Linked DNA regions of Homo sapiens. The protein of the gene in region 2 purifies or fractionates together with the protein of the main gene of each other region. This does not show direct contact. Each region holds a gene or a part of one and is shown on either strand. Other genes may lie near its edges. The genes, in order: DRG1 and DCAF12L1.

Region 1 (3,814 bases), on a different chromosome or scaffold from region 2:
AGCTATTCAGAAACTGAGGTAGGAGGATCGCTTGAGCCTGGGAAGTCGAGACTGCAGTGAGCTGTGACAGAGCCACCGCACTCCAGCCTGGGAGACAGAGAACCTGTCTCAAAAATAATACTAAGTGGGAAGGCTAAAATGAACCCTGTAGTGGCCGGGCATGATGGCTCACGCCTGTAATCCCAGCACTTTGAGAGGCCGAGGCGGGCGGATCACGAGGTCAGGAGATCAAGACCATCCTGGCTAACACGGTGAGACCCCATCTCTACTAAAAATATAAAAAATTAGACGAGTGTGGTGGCGGGTGCCTGTAGTCCCAGCTACTCAGGAGGCTGAGGCAGGAGAATGGCGTGAACCCGGGAAGCAGAGCTTGCAGTGAGCGGAGATGGCGCCACTGCACTCTAGCCTGGGCGACAGAGCGAGACTCCATCTCAAAAAAAGAAAAAAAAAAAAAAATTAACCCTGTAGTATTGAACTAGAATCAGAGATAACAGTATAAACTCATGGTTTTTAGGAAAGATGGATAAATGATGGATAGTGAGGAAGGATAAGACAGATACAGAAATACAGTTGTGTATATAAGCATCATTAGTATCCATACATGTATTTCCTAACTTTATTTGCTGAGAGGGCCTACAGGCAATGATAACCTACTTGCTAACAATGAGCATGCTTAGCACCCACATCTTGAAAACTGGGGCTCCTTGGAGAAGTGACTAATTTTCAGGGCTAGTGCAGGCAAAATCAATGTCATTTGGGAACATCTAAGTATTAACACTATCAAAAAGTAAGGAAAGGGTGGCTGATGCCTGTAATCCTGCACTTTGGGAGGCAGAGATGGAAGGATCACTTGAACCCAGGAGTTTGAGAAGCCTGGGCAACATTGCAAGACCCCATCTCTACAATAAATAAATGGCTCATGCCTGTAATCCCAGCACTTTGGGAGGTGAAGGTAGGCGGATCACTAGAGCCCAGGCATTGGAGACCAGTCTGGGCAACACAAGTCGGACCTTGTCTCTACAAAAAAAATAGAAAAAACTAGCTGGGCATGGTGGCGCACACTTGGAGTTCCAACTACTCAGGAGGCTGAGGCAGGCTGAGGCTTGAGCCCATGAGATCAAGGCTACAGTGAGCTGTGATCGTGCCACTGCACTCCGGCTTGGACAACAGTGAGACCGTGTCTCAAAAAAAAAAAAGGAGCTTATCAAAAGAACACAGGGGCCAACATGAAAGAGTTCCTAATGGCCAAAGCTTTGTAGTAATTTGAGCAACAAAATAATAATAGTATTAGATTACATCCTATAGAATAAAATAACCAAGAGCTCATACTGATAGGAATTATGAGTTAAATAAAGAAGTGGTAGCTCTAACACACAGAAGTCCAATAAATAAATGTAAAATAAAAAAGGAAAATAAAGAATCACCATTAGGCCAGGCGTGGTAGCTCATGCCTGTGTGTAATCCCAGCACTTTGGGAGGCCGAGGCAGGCAGATCACCTGAGGTCAGGAGTTTGAGACCAGCCTGACTACTAAAAATACAAAAATTTCTACTAAAAATACAAAAATTAGCCGGGCACGGTGGCACACGCCTGTAGTACCAGCTACTCAGGAGGCTGAGGCAGAAGAATTGCTTGAACCCAGGAGCCAGAGGTTGCAGTGAGCTGATATCGTGCCACTACACTCCAGCCTATGGCTAGGTAAACACCATAGCCATAAATGTCACAAACAAGCCTCACCAGTAGATGCTAATAGCAGGCAAAAATTTGAAGAGAAAAAGGACTTTCACAGTCTCAAAAGTACCCCGAGATACTTATAAAATACGGAGAGAAAAATACTACCTTCACGGCAGAGAAACCCACCCTACACCAACTTAACCAAGTAATCAATGTGAATATTATCATCGGTGAGGTATATCAACATCATGAATCTCATGTAATGATACATTGAGAAGAACATATCATTATTTTTGTGGTATTCTTACCAAAAATGCATAATCTCATTTCAATCATGAGAGAACACTGGACAAACTCAAACTAAGGAATATTCAATCAAATAACTAGTGAACACTCTTCAAAAGTGTCAAGATCATCAATGACAGTGAAAGTCTAAGGAAATATTACTGGTAGACTAGAACACAAGACTACAAACAAGCAACAACTAAATGCCACACAGGTTCCTGGAACACAAAACAGACACTAGTAAAAGAAAAAGTAATAAATTTCAAATAAGATCTATAGTTAACAACATCATACCAATGCTTATTTCCTGTTTTTGATAATTTTATAGTAATGTGAGCTGTTAACATTAGAAGTGGGGTGAGAGATAAAAGGAAACTTTGGGCTGGGCGCAGTGGCTCACGCCTGTAATCCCGGCACTTTGGGAGGCCGAGGCGGGCAGATCACAAGGTCAGGAGATCAAGACCATCCTGGCTAACACGGTGAAACCCCATCTCTACTGAAAAATACAAAAAAATTAGCCGGGCGTGGTGGCGGGCACCTGTAGTCCCAGCTACTCGGGAGGCTGAGGCAGGAGAATGGCATGAACCCTGGAGGCAGAGCTTGCAGTGAGCCAAGATTGCGCCACTGCACTCCAGCCTGGGCGACACAGCGAGACTCCGTCTCAAAAAAAAAAAAGAAACTTTGTGCTGTATTTGCAACTTTGCTATTGGTCTAAAATAAGTTCAAAATAAAAAATTAATATGCTGGGCATAGTGGCTCACACCTATAATCCTAACACTTTGGGAGGCTGAAGCAGGTGAATTGCTCGAGCTCAGGAATTCAAGACCAGCCTGGGAAACAAAGCAAGACCTCGTCTCTAATAAACATTTTTTAAGGCCAGGCACGGTGGCTCATGCCTGTAATCCCAGCACTTTGGGGGGCTGAGGTCAAGAGTTCAAGACCAGCCTAACCAACATGGAGGAACCCCGTTTCTACTAAAAATACAAAATTAGCTGGGCATGGTGGGTGGCACATGCCTGTAATCCCAGCTACTCAGGAGGTTGAGGCAGGAGAATCACTTGAACCCGGGAAGCATAAGTTGCAGTGAGCCAAGATCACGCCATTGCACTCCAGCCTGGGCAACAAAAGCGAGACTGTCTCAAAAAATGAAAAATTAAAAATTAGCCGGGTATAATGGTGTGCACCTGTAGTCCCAGCTACTCAGGAGGCTGAGGCATGAGGACTGCTTGAGCCCAGAAGATTGAGGCTCCAGTGAGCTATGATCTCACCACTCCCTCCAGCCAAGGCAACAGCAAGACCGTCGCAAAAATAAAATAATTTTTTTTCAGCCTGTGTCAGCAGTGAAAAATGTAAGAGATTAGGGAGGTTTTGCCCATGTTTAAGGTTTAGAAGGGGGCTCAGTACCCAGTAGAGGCCAGTGTGACATTGGCAGGAATTATTAATATTTGTGTTTGCCAAGAGGAAGATGAAATAATGAGGGAAGGTCAGGGTTGTTTGTGTCATCAGGCTTCCTGACCTAAAGAGGTTTCTAGAGCTCTTCCTATTCTAATTAGGCACGGTTTTAAGAAGACACTGCAGAGTTCTAGCCAAGCAAACATTTCAGTAGCCTCCTTCCTGCCTTCTTTTTTAAAATGCTATCCTAAGAATTACTAGTTAGTAAAATTGGTAACTCATAGGAAAAAGGAGGGACCACAGGCCCATGATACTTACTATTTAAATTCTTTGATAAGATTTTTGTGAATCTTCATGCAGAAATCCTCCACTGTGGTCCTGGAGTAAGGAAGCACCACTGGGGATGTGTAATCTGGTAACTGGCCTTTGGGTTTGGTGTAACTAGAATAGAGAGGGCATAAAGA
Region 2 (3,914 bases):
TTGCATCAAATCTTTAGGGATAGAATCAAAGGATATGCACATCTATTAAGCTGCTCCTGAGATGTTAATGTACACTAAAATTCACGAAACAATCCTTTGCACTATCTGTGCCTTTTCACATATGGTTGCCTCTTTCTAAAATGTCCATTCATCCCATTTGTGTCCACGTGTGGAAACAAAATGCAGCTTCCTCTATGTACCTGTCCCTGATTTCATGTTCACTATTACCACCAGCAGATGCAGCCTTTCTATTGCTATAGGATGAATGATATGGGGAGGAATCAAAAGTGAGGTGCAAGGGAGTGTTGGGGTACACTGGAAGGCAGCTGCTGGATTGGAGTGGTGAGAAGGACCTATGGCTTTTACTTGGAATTTGTGCACTTGAGGCGAAGTTGCAAAAAGGGATGGGGGAAGGGGACAGAAAACCAGAAAAATAAAGAGGGGGTTGGGGAGAAGCAGCAACAAAATAACTCTTATGGTTTTCCCTGATCAGGAAGTAAATTAATCACCGCAGGTGTCAGCACCCCACACCCTCAGGCCGGCCTGCCCACTCGCCTGCTCTTCCCACTGCCTCAGCCCCTCCCGCTTGGCTTTCCTCGTGGATCTGTCCACACACTGACTTTGTTCTCACTGCCCTCTCTCCCCAATGTATCACTGTGTAACTGAAATCACTGGGTAACTGAGTATGCCCCGTTTGCGCCTGCCACCTGACTGGCTGCTCTGAAGCAGCAGAACTGGATAAGAACTTTATGAACTCTGAGAAGTTATTCATGCACAGAACCTCTAAACTTGCATCATTGTATCCACGTTGTTGCCTTCTTCTGGAACGTTATGTTCTCTGCACGTGAAAATCCTCTGCCTCTAGACCCTGTCCCAAGGTCCCAGGGACTCTGCTTGGGCGCCTCTGGGACTGACAACAGGGATATTAACTTTGCTTCTCAGGAGTGGGGAAGAGGTCCCCCTCTCAGGATCCTTCCACTCCCTCTCCTTAGGGCTCTGAGGCTCAAAGGAAGCAAACACCTCCAAAAAGCCCCTCAGGATTCCTCCCCCATTAGTACAGCCTACCATTTTCTCAAGGCTGCACCAAACCAAGTGTTCGCTGATATCACCATGGGCCAAATGTGGGTCCCAGGGATTTGCATTTGGATTGTACTCCTCAAGGGACTGTGGCAGTAGCTCAGAGACCTCAATTTGAGGAGGGAAAAAATATTTGTTTGAAACTGTTTAAGACATCAACTGAGGGGCTGAAACTTGAGGGGTTGCAGGTCTGACATATGGGTAAAGGTCTCCCTGCGCTGCCGAATCCCCCATCCCTTGCCAAGTTTAATGTCTAATCTTAGCGAAGGGTGTCCCAGGATTACACCAAGTGCACACTGGTTTCTCCAGACAGATCGTGGCCTGGGCTCCTTCTAGCCCCGTGCTTGACTATATCGTAGGTTTCAGATTTTATTGAAGTAGGGATTTTAAGAAGGGTAGTTAGCTGTTGTCCTGAGGGTAGCGAAATGCCGCGTGTCTGATACTTGGGATCCTGGCTTGCGGGCCCTCCTAGACTCTGCCCTTGCAGCTCCGCTACCCCCTCCCCTCCCTGTCCCTCCCAGCCTTCACCCCGCCCGGCCTCAGCTACTCCTCAGGCACCCCACGCGCTCACAACCGCCTGCCCGACCGCCTGCTCCTCCCACTGCCTCCGCCCCTCCCACTCGGCCCCCCGCGTCGATCTCGCCGCACGCTGACTTTGCTCTCACTGCCCGGCCAGACGCACTTCCCGCCTTCGCCTAGGTCTGCACCGCCACCGCCGCCCTCTCCCGCGCGTCCCTCACCCGGTCCGCCACTGCCGCGCCTCAGAATCCGAAGGCTCGGTTCCAGCGCAGCCATCCACGCCGCCGCCACGACCGACTCCGGAGCCACGCGCTGCAACCGCCACCAACGCCTTGCCGCCGCCGCTCGCCCGCCGCCCACCATGGCCCAGCAGCAAACAGGTAGCAGGAAACGGAAAGCGCCCGCGGTCGAGGCGGACGCCGAGAGCTCGCCGTCGCAGGGCTTGGCGGCAGCGGACGGTGAGGGGCCGCTGCTACTCAAGAGGCAGAGGCGGCCGGCGACGTATCGCTCGATGGCGCACTATCTGAAGGTTCGGGAGGTAGGCGGGTGGGGCCCCGCCAGGCTCCAGGGCTTCGATGGCGAGCTGCGGGGCTACGCGGTACAGAGGCTGCCCGAGCTGCTGACGGAGCGCCAACTGGAGCTGGGCACGGTCAACAAGGTGTTCGCGTCACAGTGGCTGAACTCCAGGCAGGTGGTGTGCGGCACCAAGTGTAACACGCTTTTCGTGGTGGACGTGGAGTCAGGCCACATCGCGCGCATTCCCCTCTTGCGGGACAGTGAGGCCAGGCTGGCCCAGGACCAACAGGGCTGCGGCATCCATGCCATCGAGCTGAATCCCTCCAAGACGCTTCTGGCCACCGGCGGCGAAAACCCCAACAGCCTGGCCATCTACCAGCTGCCCTCCCTGGATCCCCTGTGCCTGGGCGACCGCCATGGCCACAAGGACTGGATCTTCGCCGTCGCCTGGCTGAGTGACACCGTAGCCGTGAGCGGCTCCCGCGACGGCACTGTGGCGCTGTGGCGGATGGACCCGGACAAGTTCGATGACACTGTTGCCTGGCATAGCGAGGTGGGTCTCCCCGTATATGCCCACATCCGTCCGAGGGATGTGGAGGCCATCCCCAGGGCCATCATCAACCCCAGTAACCGCAAGGTGCGGGCCCTGGCCTGCGGCGGCAAGAACCAGGAACTGGGAGCGGTGTCCTTGGACGGCTACTTCCACCTGTGGAAAGCCGGGAGCGCACTATCCAGGCTGCTGTCCATCAGGCTGCCCTACTTCCGGGATAATGTGTGCCTGACCTACTGTGATGATATGTCTGTGTACGCCGTGGGCTCCCATTCCCACGTCTCTTTCCTGGATCTGCGCCAGGACCAGCAGAACATCCGGCCCCTGTGTTCTCGAGAGGGTGGCACAGGCGTGCGGTCGCTGAGCTTCTACCGCCACATCATCACTGTGGGCACCGGTCAGGGCTCCCTGCTCTTCTATGACGTCCGGGCCCAGAAATTCCTGGAGGAAAGAGCCTCCGCCACCCTGGAGTCCTCTTCGGGACCTGCAAGGAGGAAGCTCAGGCTTGCCTGTGGCAGAGGCTGGCTCAACCACAATGATTTCTGGGTGAATTACTTTGGTGGCATGGAAGTGTTTCCCAATGCGCTCTACACCCACTGCTACAACTGGCCTGAGATGAAGCTCTTTGTGGCTGGGGGGCCTCTCCCTGCAGGCCTCCATGGGAACTATGCAGGCCTCTGGAGCTAAGGATGACCGCCTTGTACTCCAGGTACACAGATTTACCTTTCAGTTCCGCCCGACTGCCCTTCATGCTGCATTTTTTTGCTTTTAACTCTGTGCGTCTTTTGTTTTCCAGGTGGAACCAGCCCAGCTTAATTTGTACTCCTCCAAGCAGAGAGAGTGAGTGGTCCTTTGGTCAATGAAAACTTGGCTTTAAGACTTTTTGACTCCTTTCCAACACCATCTTTTGGAATTTTCATACAAAGAAATTTGGTTAATCGTTAATCTTTAGTTGCATTCTCTCTTTGAGTGATTCATACATTCTGTTTCTTTAAGAAGATGCAGTCATGGTCTTTCAGTTATGTATATTTGTTTTCCTTGTTTTTCCTCGTTACCAATATTACAACAGCATTGTTTTCAGTTATTTTTCATTGCAGATACGAAGAGAAAATTTTCTAGTAAGCAAGGTGTTCCTACATCTTTTCTGGAGAGCTTACCATAGTTTTATAGCATTGTTCAATTGGAAAAGTACATTCCAAGTTCTAGATTACCTACGTTTGGAAACACTTAATTTACAAATTGTGATCTTAGT

The links.
Region 1: the proteins of DCAF12L1 (region 2) and DRG1 purify together in Homo sapiens (co-immunoprecipitation; one large-scale study listed by IntAct). This does not show direct contact.

What each region holds. Positions count from the first base shown.
Region 1 is NC_000022.11:31,427,037-31,430,850, reverse strand, and holds part of DRG1 (developmentally-regulated GTP-binding protein 1), read right to left. Parts: intron 3,792-3,814; coding exon 3,669-3,791; intron 1-3,668. UniProt on the Homo sapiens protein: Catalyzes the conversion of GTP to GDP through hydrolysis of the gamma-phosphate bond in GTP. Appears to have an intrinsic GTPase activity that is stimulated by ZC3H15/DFRP1 binding likely by increasing the affinity for the potassium ions.
Region 2 is NC_000023.11:126,550,652-126,554,565, reverse strand, and holds the start of DCAF12L1 (DDB1- and CUL4-associated factor 12-like protein 1), read left to right. Parts: upstream 1-1,751; 5' UTR 1,752-1,957; coding exon 1,958-3,349; 3' UTR 3,350-3,371; intron 3,372-3,458; 3' UTR 3,459-3,914.